3 separate regions of the Homo sapiens genome follow, and all the other regions are linked to region 2. The links come from fine-mapping of genetic effects on gene expression. A gene starts in region 2. Each other region holds a variant in brackets. All regions are shown on one strand. Distances are between the middles of the regions. Region 1 has its middle 27 kb from the start of LINC02673. Region 2 holds the start of ACBD5 (acyl-CoA binding domain containing 5). Region 3 overlaps YME1L1 (YME1 like 1 ATPase).

Region 1 (4,245 bases), 76 kb after region 2:
AATATTAGTTGTGATAGTTGGAAACTGTAAGTCAGGTTGAAATAATTACAGGAAGAAATTAGAGATCCTTTTTATTTTGTTACCACATCTATATCCCTGGACCTTTATAATCTGTATAGCACCATTTTGTAGGTAGTGGAAGGTCTCATCTTATTCTGGAAGATCCCATGTCATCTTTCTCAAGTTACAGTGGGTTCCAACTTGTGCTTGTCCCCTCAAGTGATTCTTTTTTTCCTAAAAGTAAAAATCTCCCATGCTACCTGCATCTCTACCTCAAGTTTTTAAAATATTTTCAAATTCTGCATCACCATGAAGCCATTCAATAGACTTCACAAAACCCCAGGTAAGTTGGTTAGATTTAACAGAGCTAAGCCTCATCCATCACTGATCAGTCTTCAGGTATAAAAGTAGGGATTCATGCTGGCATCAGCAGTACATATAGTAAAATTGAAACAACTTTGAGAAGATCAGCATGGCCCCTGCACGAGGATGACACACAGATCTGTGAAGTGTTGTATATTTCTTGCAGTTTCCAAAAGGGCATGTGACTACTTTCTAACTAGCTCCAAGGAAATGGTGTGAGTCAAAGCAAAATGGTTGTCACCCAGTATTGCAGTTGTGATTTTCATACAAGAAATATTGATGCAAGGTGATATATGAAATGAGATGTGGTAACACATAGGATCTTGTGTGCAATATGCTGTTAGTGCATCTCAGAAATGAGGAAATACCAACTTGCATCTTCCTTGTGGAACTTACAAAAAATAAAGGTAGCGTTTTTTCTTCCACAGCAGCTGGAAATGAGCATAGTGACTAAGCATCATTCTAACAAAGATTTGTTGATTCAGAGTTTCAGGAGGTAGATAAAGAGTAGTAATAGTCCAAGCCAGATGCTGACATCTATTAGTTTTCTGCCCTTGGTGTGATTGATGAGCTCAGTAATAGAGGCTAATCAGGTTATCCAATTTAATGAATTCATATATTTATAAATAAATTTCATTACAAATTATAAAATAGCTTAGATGCCTTGAATTACAAGCCACAAAGAATAGAACATCTAATAACCAAAAGTAGGAGTTAATAACAGAAAAGTGCAACTTTTGAACATTATAACCTACGAAGAAACTTTTTTTTGAAATTTATTTATGTTTTGTAGAGACAGGGTATCCCTATGTTGCCCAGGCTGGTCTTGAATTTCTGGGCTCAAGTTGTCATCCTGTCTCAGCATCCTAAAGTGCTTGCATCACAGGCATGAGCCACTGCACCAGGCCAAAACATTGGATTTTATTGGGAATTTTAAAATAGTTTCAGCAATAAGGTTGAACAACAAGGTATTTCATTGCTTCACTATTTATTCGAGCATTTTAAAAACATTATCATGTTGAATCTTTATAATAAGCTAGTGAAATCAGGCTCTAAAATTCTCATTTTTAGAAGACGTTGAGCCTAACAAGCAACTTGTTCAAGAAAAAATACCTGTTGGTTACCACACTAGGACTTATTCTGAATTAAGGACATTTTCCATTATGCCAAGCTAACTCTAGTTAATTTACGGAATTATGCTGACCTCAATTCATGAGTATTTCATCTTACTTTCTTTCTTCTTTTATTAGCAGCTTAATAAGTTCCTAGAGCTTACAAACTTAAAGTCTCTGGAATAAGTAATGTTCTGCTGTTAGCTCTGATATTGTCTGAAATAGTCTAAGAACTTAATAAATTTGGAAAATTTGGTAAATGTTAAAATAGTAATTTTATTTATTACATTTTTATACATAGCATTCATCAATGTCTTTTGGAATATAAACAAAAGATATCTAAAAATCCTCAAAATAGCAATCCAGGTAAGACTTCTGATAGTAAACTACTCTTGGTGGTGCTACCATAAGGTTATGGAAATGTTGATCATACAATAGCAATTAAAAAAGCAATGTGGAAATAGGATGTGTTTACATATATACATATGTGTGTGTGTACATATATATATATAGCTTTGATTCAATTTTTTAGTTTATAATTCAGAATTAGTTATAGGTAGTTTATAATCTCAGAAAATATTATCTGAAAAAATATGTTTTTAATTATGGTCCCTAAAATTTTATATAATACTTTTGTATAAATAAGTAAAACAATTTTTTTTTTTTTTTTTTTTTTTTGAGACGGAGTCTCGCTCTGTCACCCAGCCTGGAGTGCAGTGGTGCAATCTCTACTCACTGCAGTCTCCGCCTCCCAGGTTCAAGCTATTCTCCTGCCTCAGCCTCCCGAGTAGCTGGGATTACAGGCACCTGCCACCATGCCCAGCTAATTTTTTTGTACTTTTGGTAAGACGGGGTTTCACCATGTGGGCCAGGCTGGTCTCAAACCCCTGACCTCAGGTGATCTGCCTGCCTTGGCCTCCCAAAATGCTGGGATTACAGAGATAAGTTAGGTTCTTAAGAGATGTGTATTAAAAGCTCCTACTTTAATTATATTTTTATCCAAGTTTTTTTTTTAATTGTTTAAAATGTACACATTTTACTGTGTATTAT[T/TG]GTACATACAGATTTTTTACTTATATTTTCTTCAAAAAATAGCTTTTATCTTAACAATGATTCTATTTATTCTGATTTATACTTATAACTATTGATTTCAATTCACCTGACATTAATATTGCCATTCGTGCTTTCTTTTTGTTGAGTTTGCTTTGTTCTCACCTTTTTTTTACCTTTATCTACCTATCTTTATTTGTTTTAAAGTGTTCTTCTTATAAAAACAAACATGGTATAAACATATTCTGATTAATGTGATAGTTTCCGTCCTAATAGAAGTACGCAGACTGATCACATTTATTATAACAATTGATATATGTGATTTATTCCTTCTGTCTTACATTGTGCTTCATCTTTATTTTACTGTTGGCCTCCCCTAGACTTTCTTATCTTTTTCTGATTTGAAATCCACTCTTTTCCCCGATACCCCACACTGCTGTTGATTTGGAAACTTGACTGAAAAACAATTCTACAATTCCATTCATAGTTATCTTCTTTATTTGCCACTTTCATGGGAAAACAAGTTTTTCGATTTTTTCCTCACTAAGATTCTATTTGTCCATTGCTTTCCCCTTCATCCCAATAGATGAGACCTTTAGAATGTTTTTATGTTTTGCATCTAGTTACGTAGCTGCTAGATTTTGCTGAGATAGTTTAATATTTTGAACTTCAGATTATTAGTTTTTCCCTTGAAGTGTATCTGTTCTGTTTAAAGTGTCTTTGCCTTTGACACTCCCCCATTTCTCTGCTCACCACCACCCTTTTTTCATGGTTCCATCTTCAAGTCCCTGTCTTGATTATTTTCTTAAGTGTTTTGCCCAAACAGGATGGATAGGTGATATATTCTCTGAATCTTTGCATAACTGTTAGTACAGTTTTTATTTTGCTCCAACAGTTGATTGATATTCATTTGCATGTAACATATCATCATGCCTCTTTATCTACCGCCTGAGCCATATTCTCCAGGCTAGCTTTTATCCGTAGTAAGCTGATATTTTAATCTCTGTCTATCTACTGCGTGGTCTCTTATTCTGAATTTCGACTGAAGAGAAAAAGGAACATGGTTGCTTTTTTTTTAATGCAGCAATAAAGAATAAATAGAAAAATTTGCAATGTTTATAATTGCTTAAATTGAAATATCATATGTATATATATGAATAAGCAAGAATAATATTCTGAGTACATTAGTATTATATTGAACGTTAAATACTGATTGATCCAACTACTAGTCATTGAGCTCCTGGAAGCCAGGGACAACATTTTAAACATTTCTGTGTCTCTAATGTATTTGCTGGAAGACAAAATATATTTCTCTTCCTACCCTTCCTCTCCCCCAACTCCTCCAATCTAAAATTGACCCTGTTTTCAGTACAACAAGATTCCAGATGGAAGTCAAGGTATATAGTGATTTTATTAACCCCGGTAGCAAAAATATTGTTTCAATAAAGATAAAAATTTTACATTCCATCTATGGTTTCCTTAATTTAAAAATATATTGGTAATACAGTTATATAGTTCAAAATCAAAGTGATATAAAATGATATTCATTAAGCCATCTTGCTCCCACCCTTGTCTCTATCAGGTTTGTACCTGTTTTTCCCTGCAGAGTTCATGCATTCAACAAATATTTATTAAATATTTATTGAGTACTTAGGTGCTCATTGTGTGCCAGACACTGTTCTAAGTGCTAAGGGCACAGCAATGGAAACAACAACAACAACAA
Region 2 (4,245 bases):
GGCTCATGCCTGTAATCCCAGCACTTTGGGTGGCCCAGGAGGGCAGATCACCTGAGGTCGGGAGTTCAATACCAGCCTGACCAACATGGAGAAACCCCGTCTCTACTAAAAATACAAAATTAGCCGGGCATGGTGACGCACGGGTGTAATCCCAGCTGCTGGGTAAGCTGAGGCAGAAGAATCGCTTGAACCTGGGAGGTGGGGGTTGAGGTGAGCTGAGATTGTACCATTGCACTTCAGCCTGGGCAACAAGAGCGGAACTCCATCTCTAAAGAAATAAATATGTTTATTGTGAAATATAATTCATATAATGTAGAAAGATATGAATTGAAAAGTACGTCTTGCTTCTAAGACTCTGCATTTAGAACAGAGAAAAATATTTAATGGCCAAAAACTTCACATTGGTCTATGACATAAAATTACAAATTCAAAAAGCTCTGCAAATCGTGAACAGGGTTAATATGAAGAAAAACCACATCTACTAGTCAAATTGCTGAAAACCGAAGATAGAAAAGAAATCTAAAAAGCAGCCAGAGAAATAGCACATTAAATACAAGAAGGAGATCAGCCACTGGAATGACTTTTTTCTCACCAGCTGCAAAGAAGGTCCAATATGAGTATAAAAAAGAACATTATACAATGGAATAGCAAATAAAAAGGTAGAAAATATATATTTATTAAAATAGAAATTACTTCACAATTGACTATAGTTATTCTTTCTTTTCTGTCCCTTCATATCAAAAGTTTTCAAAACGCTTAAGCTGGTAGACCCTATGAGTGTGTGGCATTAGGCATCCCCAGCCTAGATTTTTGTTTGTTTGTTTGTTTGTTTGTTTGAGATGGAGTCTGGCTCTGTCGCCCAGGCTGGAGTGCAGTGGCACGATATCGGGTCACTGCAACCTCTGCCTCCCGGGTTCAAGCAATTTCCCTGTCTCAGCCTCCCGAGTAGCTGGGACTACAGGCGCACGCCACGAAGCCTGGCTAATTTTCGTATTTTTTAGTAGAGACGGGGTTTCACCATATTGGTCAGGCTGGTCTTGAACTCCTGACCTCAGGTGATCCATCCACCTCGGCCTCCCAAAGTGTTGGGATTACAGGCTTGAGCCACCGCGCCCGGCCCGGATTTATTTTTTAACACACCCAAATCCGCAGTCATTAAGTGACAAGACTTTTGTTTTCAACAATATGAAGTACTTAAAATCTGGATATTAGATTTTTCTCCGGTTTGGAAGATCAAAAGGTAATTAATTCATATTCAATAGCTCCCCTTCCACTACATGGCTCCTACACAGAAAAAAAGGCTAAATAAACAACACTAGAACCAGAAAGTGAAAGGGGGCTTTGGGGCTCTCTGCAGGAGGCGTCTACAGCCGGGGCCCAGCGCACGTACCATTCTTCGGCAAACTCTGGATCACCTTCACGGCCGCCTCAAACCTAGTCTCGTGCACGGATCTCGTGTCCGCCATCTCCAGCTGCCAGTGTTGGCCCCGGTCCCAAGGTCTGTCGGCGGGAATCAGGCAGCAGCAGCACCAGCTTTCCCAAGAGCCTGCATGAAACTGGAACATGGAGCGCAGCCGCGGATCAACATGCCCCAAAAGGAGGAGGCCCGGGAGCGAAGCGGGTCAGTTCCCCTTTGCCCTGCCCTATCCAGGCCACACAGATCGAAGCGGCCCGGCTCCTTCCTCCTCCCCCGGGGCGTGACTAAGGCCACGAATCCGGCCCGCGACGACAGCAAAACAACTCACCGAGAGGAAGAGCATGTCTAGCAGAAGACAGAGGGGGTCCGGGCATCGGTGGCCGCGGAGCCGCTCTCCCACCCTGGGGACCCTGGCGGAGCAGCCACACCCCCCATTCCGCCGGAGTCCGTCTGTCAGTCCGTGCCCTCCCCACAGCCCCGCCCCAGAGTCACCGGAGGACCCACTGGCGCCGCCGCCGCCGCAGCAGCAGTGCAGCAAACCCCACCCACCCGACCCGCCGCCGCGGCAAGGACGCGCGCGGTCCGTCTGTCCCCAGAGGAGGGTCCGGGAAGCGGGGAAAGGGGGCCACAGTCCCGGCTTGGTGCGGGGAGCACACTGTGCGCGCTTTTGTTCAGAAGGGGGAAACCGAGGCCGGACCGATGTGTCCGCTCTGGCAGCCGGGTGGACGAAGTGCGCGCTGGGGATGCGCGGTTGGGTTCTGCACCTGGGCCCAAAGCTGCACGCGACGGCACCGCTGGGCAACAAAAATGACTCTGCGGTCCCCAGCGCCTGCACTCTCCTAAGTTAAGGTTTGAGGAAGTTAAATGGGGCCTAAGCAAAGGGCTTTAAGTCGGGACAGGTTCTGTGAGAAACTCCAGTTCTGCCATTTAAATTATGTGACCTAGGGCAAGTCACTTAGCCTTTCCAGTGGCAATCGTGACACCCACTCTAAAGGGTAGATGGAGAAAAGCATTGGGGACCTTGGATGGAGGTGCTCAGCAGTCCCTGGCCCGCAGGTCTTCGACAGTTTTCGCTGCCCTGAGCCAAGAACGTCCGAGGAGCAGCCGAAGGAGAGAGGAGGTCGCCGGCTCCTAAACTGGGCTGGGACGGAGGGCAACTTCCCCTACACTACCCTTTCCACCCAGCCCCAGGGAGCCAGGCACCTCCAGCGGGATTTAATAGGAGACTGGGCATGGGGACGGCCGGGCACAGTGGCTCACGCCTGTAATCTCGATACTTTGAGAGGTCGAGTGGGGAGGATTGCTTGAGGCCAGGAGTTCAAGACGAGCCTGGCAACATGGCGATACCCTGGCTCTATTTAAGAAACCAATAATTAAAAAAAAAAATAAAAATAGGATACTGGGCGTAGAGGGCGGGGCCAATGAGGAGTCTTTACGGGTCGTCAACCCTAGAAAGGGGGTGCCCTGGGCCTTCAACTTACTAGCGCAACCCCCTGCGTCCTTAGGCATTTGGGAAGTGCCCCAGGCCGAACGTTGGTGGTGGGACTGACTAGGTTGTGGGGGGTGGAGTCCTGTAGCCCGGAAATCCCAAAGTCTCCCGGATGGAAGAGTCGTTTTTGTCAGTTAGGGGGATGGGTTAGGAGGGTTACTAGGAAAAATCTAGGCGCAGATCGTAAGTTACTCTTCCCTCTGAGCCGCGGCGCCGGCATTTACCTTGGTATTGCCGGACAAGGCCTGTCCGGTAATGTCCCCGACGCCCGCCCCTCGCCCTGCCCCGCGGGCTTATGGGAAATGTAGTCCGCCGTTCCGCCGCGCTTCCGGACACGTCCCAGCGGCGTCCGGCGTTCCTGCTAGCTCTTCCGGTTAGGCGTCTCTGTCCCGCGGACGCCGCAGCCGTGCGGCGGAATCCCTCCTTCCTAGCCGGTTGCATTTCGTGCCTCTTTGAAATGCCACATTCGCTTCCAGCTTAAGTGTCTTGAGATTGTCGCGGTGTCTGCAGCTGCGGCTTCTCCAGCGCCCTCCGGAGGCTTTGCTTCGGGTTTGTCTAATACAACACAGGGGGAAATCATTTGATCGTGGACGTTTCACGTTTCTTTGTCTTCAAAAATGAAGAGGACATTTTGTAAAATTATCACACAAAGATGAGAAATAGATTAGAGAACCAACTTTGGGTTGTAAATACTAAAGAATTCCAAATGGTAATGTATGAATGGCTAAAAAGCAGTGACACTTATCTAACGCGTTATTACTTTATTCCATAAAAGGAACAAACCTAAATTGAAGGAATATTCATTTCCCCCTTATTGGATTTAATAGAACCCTTTTCATTTTTAATGGGAAATAATCAATGTGACCTATAGATGTTTCAATTTTTTTTTTAAATAAATAAACCTCTTTAGGGTGATTTCTGGTGGGATTGAGGAAAATGAACGGGTTTAGGGTTATCTTGGCCCAAAGTCTATCTTGGATTTGCCGCTAGTTCACTGTGTGACTGCGTCAGGAAACAAGCTCTGAAAAATTTCGTTTTCTCCAATAAAGTATGTGAAATTACCTAGCATGTAGTAGCCTTCAAGATTTTTGTATTTCCTCTTTTTTGATACTTAGCTGAGCAATAAATATTGGACAGCAGCACCAGGGAAGAATCTGAATCAGGCAGGGAGGATGAGCACTGCCCAGGAGGAAAAAGCGAAAAGGAAAGTGTGCTGAGCAGGTGCCTTGGCGGGGGAGAGAGGAAAAGGAAATGACTTCACACACACACACACACACACGCGCACACACACACAGAGAGAATGAAGTTTCTTTCTGTCTCTTAAGTGATGTGTGAGTGG
Region 3 (4,245 bases), 89 kb before region 2:
ACATTTAAAAAAAAAAAAATAGTAAGTAGGCCGGGAATGGTGGCTCATGCCTGTAATCCCAGCACTTTGGGAGGCCAAGGCAGGTAGATACCTGAGGTCAGGAGTTCGAGACCAGCCTGGCCAACGTGGTGAAATCCCATCGCCACTAAAAATACAAAAAAATTGGCCAGGAATGGTGTTGGGCGCCTGTAATCCCAGATACTTGGGAGGCAGAGGCAGGAGAATCACTCGAACCTGGGAGGCGGAGGTTGCAGTGAGCCAAGATCATGCCATTGCATTCCAGCCTGGGTGACAAGAGCAAAACTCCATCTCAAAATAAATAAATAAATAAAAATGAAAACAAAAAAAACACTTGAGCCCAGGAAGTTGAAGCTGCAGTGAGCTATCATGCCACCACACTCCAGCCTGAATGACATGGCAAGACCCTGTCTCAAGAAAAAAAAAAATTTACTTAATAAATATTTGTTGAGTAAATGAATACATTAAATGGGTTCTTATTATATACCAGGTTTAGTACTACAGGCTTTACTTCTATCATCCCATTTAATCCTCAAACAGCTATAATAATGAGTAACAATTATACTTCTTGTTACAGTTCTGTCAGAGACTTTTGAACCAGAGTGACTCCATCTGGAGTAGGGGCAAAATGAGGGTAAATGAGGCTGAGACCTACTGGGTTGCATTCCCAGGAGGTTAGGCATTCTAAGTTACAGGATGAGATAGGGTGTGGGCACAAGATACAGGTCATAAAGACCGTGATGATAAAACAGGTTGTAGTAAGGAAGCCAGCCAAATCCCACCAAAACTAAGATGGAGAGGAGAGTGACTTCTGCTAGTCCTCACTGCTCATTATGTGCTAATTATAATGCATTAGCATGCTAAAAGACACTCCCACCAGACCATGACAGTTTAAAAATGCCATGGCAACATCAAGAAGTTACCCTATGTGGTCTAAAAAGGGGAGGAACCTTAGGGGTCCCCCTTTCCCTGAAAACTTATGAATAATCACACATTGTTTAGCATAAAATCAAGAAATAACTAACTGTAGGTATCCTTCGTGGACAAGCCCAAGCAGCTCCTCTGCCTATGGAGTACCCCATTCTTTACTCCTTTACCTTCTTAATAAACTTGCTTTCACTTTATAGACTCTCTCGCCTTTTTTTTTTTTTTTTTTTTTTTGAGATGGAATCTCGCTTTGTCGCCCAGACTGGAGTGCAGTGATGCAATCTCGGCTCACTGCAACCACCGCCTCCTGGGTTCGAGTGATTCTCCTGCCTCAGCCTCCCGAGTAGCTGGGACTACAGGCGCAGGCCACCACACCCAGCTATTTTTTTGTATTTTTAGTAGAGATGGAGTTTCACCATGTTAGCCAGGATCTTGATCTCCTGACCTCGTGATCCGCTCGCCTCTGCCTCCCAAAGTGCTGGGATTACATGCGTGAGTCCCCGCGCCTGGCGACTCTCTCGAATTCTTGTGCGAGATCCAACAACCCTCTCTTGGGGTCTGGATCAGGGCCCACTTCCAGTAAAAATTCCAGTGTTTATCTCCTTCAAAACTCAAGTTTGAGTTGAGAACAATGGCAAACTTAGTTGCCACTGTAATCCTGTTAAGAGGTGGGACCTTTAAGAGGCATTTAGTTCAGGAGGGCTCTGCCCTCATCAATGGACTAACGCCATTATTGTGGGTACAGACCATTTAATAGATGAAGACAACAAAGATTTAGAATCTGACTCAAAATTCCAGACTTCTCATCCCATGGATATTGATACACAAATAAATTCGTGACATACTAAGGAATAAAGCTGACCGTAAAACTACCTTAAGTATGCATACCCGTGGGGGCGCGGTGGCTCACGCCTGTAATCCCAGCACTCTGGGAGGCCGAGGCGGACGGATCACAAGGTCAGGGGATGGAGACCATCCTGGCTAACACGGTGAAACCCCATCTCTACTAAAAATACAAAAAATTAGCCGGGCGTGGTGGCGGGCGCCTGTGGTCCCAGCTACTTGGGAGGCTGAGGCAGGAGAATGGCGTGAACCTGGGAGGCGGAGCTTGCAGTGAGCGGAGATCGCGCCACTGCACTCCAGCCTGGGCGACAGAGCGAGACTCCATCTTAAAAAAAAAAAAAAATTAAAATAAAAAAAAGTATGCATACCCGTGTTTGTTTATAGAAAAAAATGTGTGAAAGAATT[T/C]AGTCTAAGATACGTATCCCTGAGTAATGAGATTATGGGCGATCTTATTTATACTTTCAGCATTTTTAGCAAAAAAACATGGATTTGTTTTAAGGCTAGTCAAGTGAAGCAATGTATCATTTTTAGAGTCAGAAAGAAACAGTAAGTTCCTTACAGCCTGGGGGCAGTAAAAAGAAAAAAAAATAAACAGTAACTTCTTTTGAAACTTTAAAAATAATCAAATCATTTCAAGATACATATTTTCTACCTCTTTGAAAAGATTTATTTGAATTAGTTATATCTCTTTTATTTGAATTAGTTATATCTCTTTTCTTTCACAAAAGGATTTAGAGTTGAGCTCTTCTCAATGAAAAAGTTCATTTTCTGTGTCTTCCTTTTTACCATTTAATTTCAAGTGTATTCAACCAATTAAGCAACAAGGAATTCCAAATGTGTTACCATCCTTCAAAGCAAGAAATGCCTGAGAGTCCTCACTATATTTGAGCCCTGTTAAGACTGCCTAGGGTACATAAAAATCCCTTTATCATCTCTACCAACATCACATACTACTAACTGTCCATTCAGTTGATGGTAAATTCTCCTAAAATCAGGCCTCTTGATGTGAACTAAGGCAAAGAGTTGAGTTTCAAAAACTTCAATACCATATTCAATAGGCCATGTCAGACTTCTTTTTCAAACAATTACTAGGACTTCTCCAGACACTGTCATCTTGGTAAATAGCACCTTCAATGCATTCATCTGATCAAACCCAGAAACACCTCTCCCCATCATCTCTCTGATCTCTCATGCAATTCCACTTTCTTCAAAATATATCTCATTCTCTTCTTTCCATAACCACTGCAACAGCTTTAATTGGGGGGTGGGTGGGTATTTTTAGCTGATAACATCTTCCACTCTTGCCCTCTCCTATTCTCCATATAGCAAAAGCCAGTCATCTCTTAAAAATGAAAATCTAATCATGTTTTAAAACTTTCAATGGTTCCCAATACACTTAAAATGAAATCAGCCATAATATATCCTTTACTCCCTGTATGATCTGCCTCAAGTCTTTTCTCCAACCTCTTCTGTCACTACCCCCTTTAACTACTATGTTCTAGCCACACTAGCCTTATTTTTGTTCCTTCAACCTGCTAAACCCTTTCCTAACTCAGGACCTCCAGGTATTTTTCTGTATGCCTGTGATACCTGTTCACTCTTCACCTTGCTAAGTCCTACTCATATTTACTTCATATCAATATTAAGAGAAGATTCCACATTTGCTTTGCTCACCTGGTACATAACTGATGCCCAATAACAAGCAGCTGCTTCAGTTTGTTAGCCAGTACTAGCACAAAAAATTAAAAATTCTTAAAATGAGGGGGAGTAAAAGTTACACAAAGGAACACAATCATATGCTTAAATCAAGAACCTAAGAGTGTCGATTTTCTTAAAAATTATGTTTTAAAAAAACTCAATGTTTTAAAAACTATTTCTTTGCAAAACTGTAGGAACTCTCAAAAAATCTATTAAAATGTTACCATCAAAAAAAGAGACTGGAATGAAGCAAGAATAAAACATTGTCACAAGTGATTGCCCAAGAGCGTAATGAAAACCCTTGAAATCATTTTTCTCTTCACTACCTTTTGTTTTACAAAACGATGAGGATGAGGCTGAATCAAAATTTTAACTGCAAACAGTTTACGACTCGGAAATACACATTTTAGTTACTTCTGGTCAAAATGAGAAAAAAACTTGCATGGCTGGCCATCCGAAATATTATACCATGTTTGGGTTAAATTTAAATTCCATTTAAAAGGAAATAAAGAGCAGGGGATAGGGGCTGTGAACACTAAAGCCACTGGAAAGTCGGAAAAAAGGGAACATTACCTGCTCCCTTTAATGTATGGTACAGACATTTTCCCACCCCAGAACGCCGGACACTGAACAATGCCGGACGGATTCTCTAGCAGAAATTCCACGCAATCAGTTCGATAAGCCAGGGTCTCTCTCTATCACTGAGCTCACATCCCGCCTCTGCCCTCAACAGCTTCATCGTCAGCACTGAAGTCTCCG

What was found.
Region 1: its variant is fine-mapped to the expression of ACBD5 in esophagus mucosa (GTEx, PIP 0.99).
Region 3: its variant is fine-mapped to the expression of ACBD5 in whole blood (TOPMed, PIP 0.98).

What each region holds. Positions count from the first base shown.
Region 1 is chr10:27,314,703-27,318,947 of GRCh38, forward strand. It overlaps the pseudogene ODAD2P1 and the pseudogene RNU6-666P. Among named protein-coding and RNA genes, the nearest start is that of LINC02673, 27 kb to the right of the region's middle. The variant T/TG (reference allele first, on the strand shown) is at 2,526.
Region 2 is chr10:27,238,929-27,243,173 of GRCh38, forward strand. It overlaps ACBD5 (acyl-CoA binding domain containing 5), which reads right to left and starts at 1,869. Exons shown (of 13, transcript NM_145698.5): 1 at 1,746-1,869; 2 at 1,391-1,556. The coding sequence starts at 1,760. RefSeq lists enhancers at 921-1,423, 1,381-1,640, 3,091-3,340, 3,471-3,580 and a silencer at 1,761-1,870.
Region 3 is chr10:27,149,765-27,154,009 of GRCh38, forward strand. All of the region lies in intron 1 of YME1L1 (YME1 like 1 ATPase), which reads right to left. Among named protein-coding and RNA genes, the nearest start is that of YME1L1, 2.5 kb to the right of the region's middle. The variant T/C (reference allele first, on the strand shown) is at 2,194.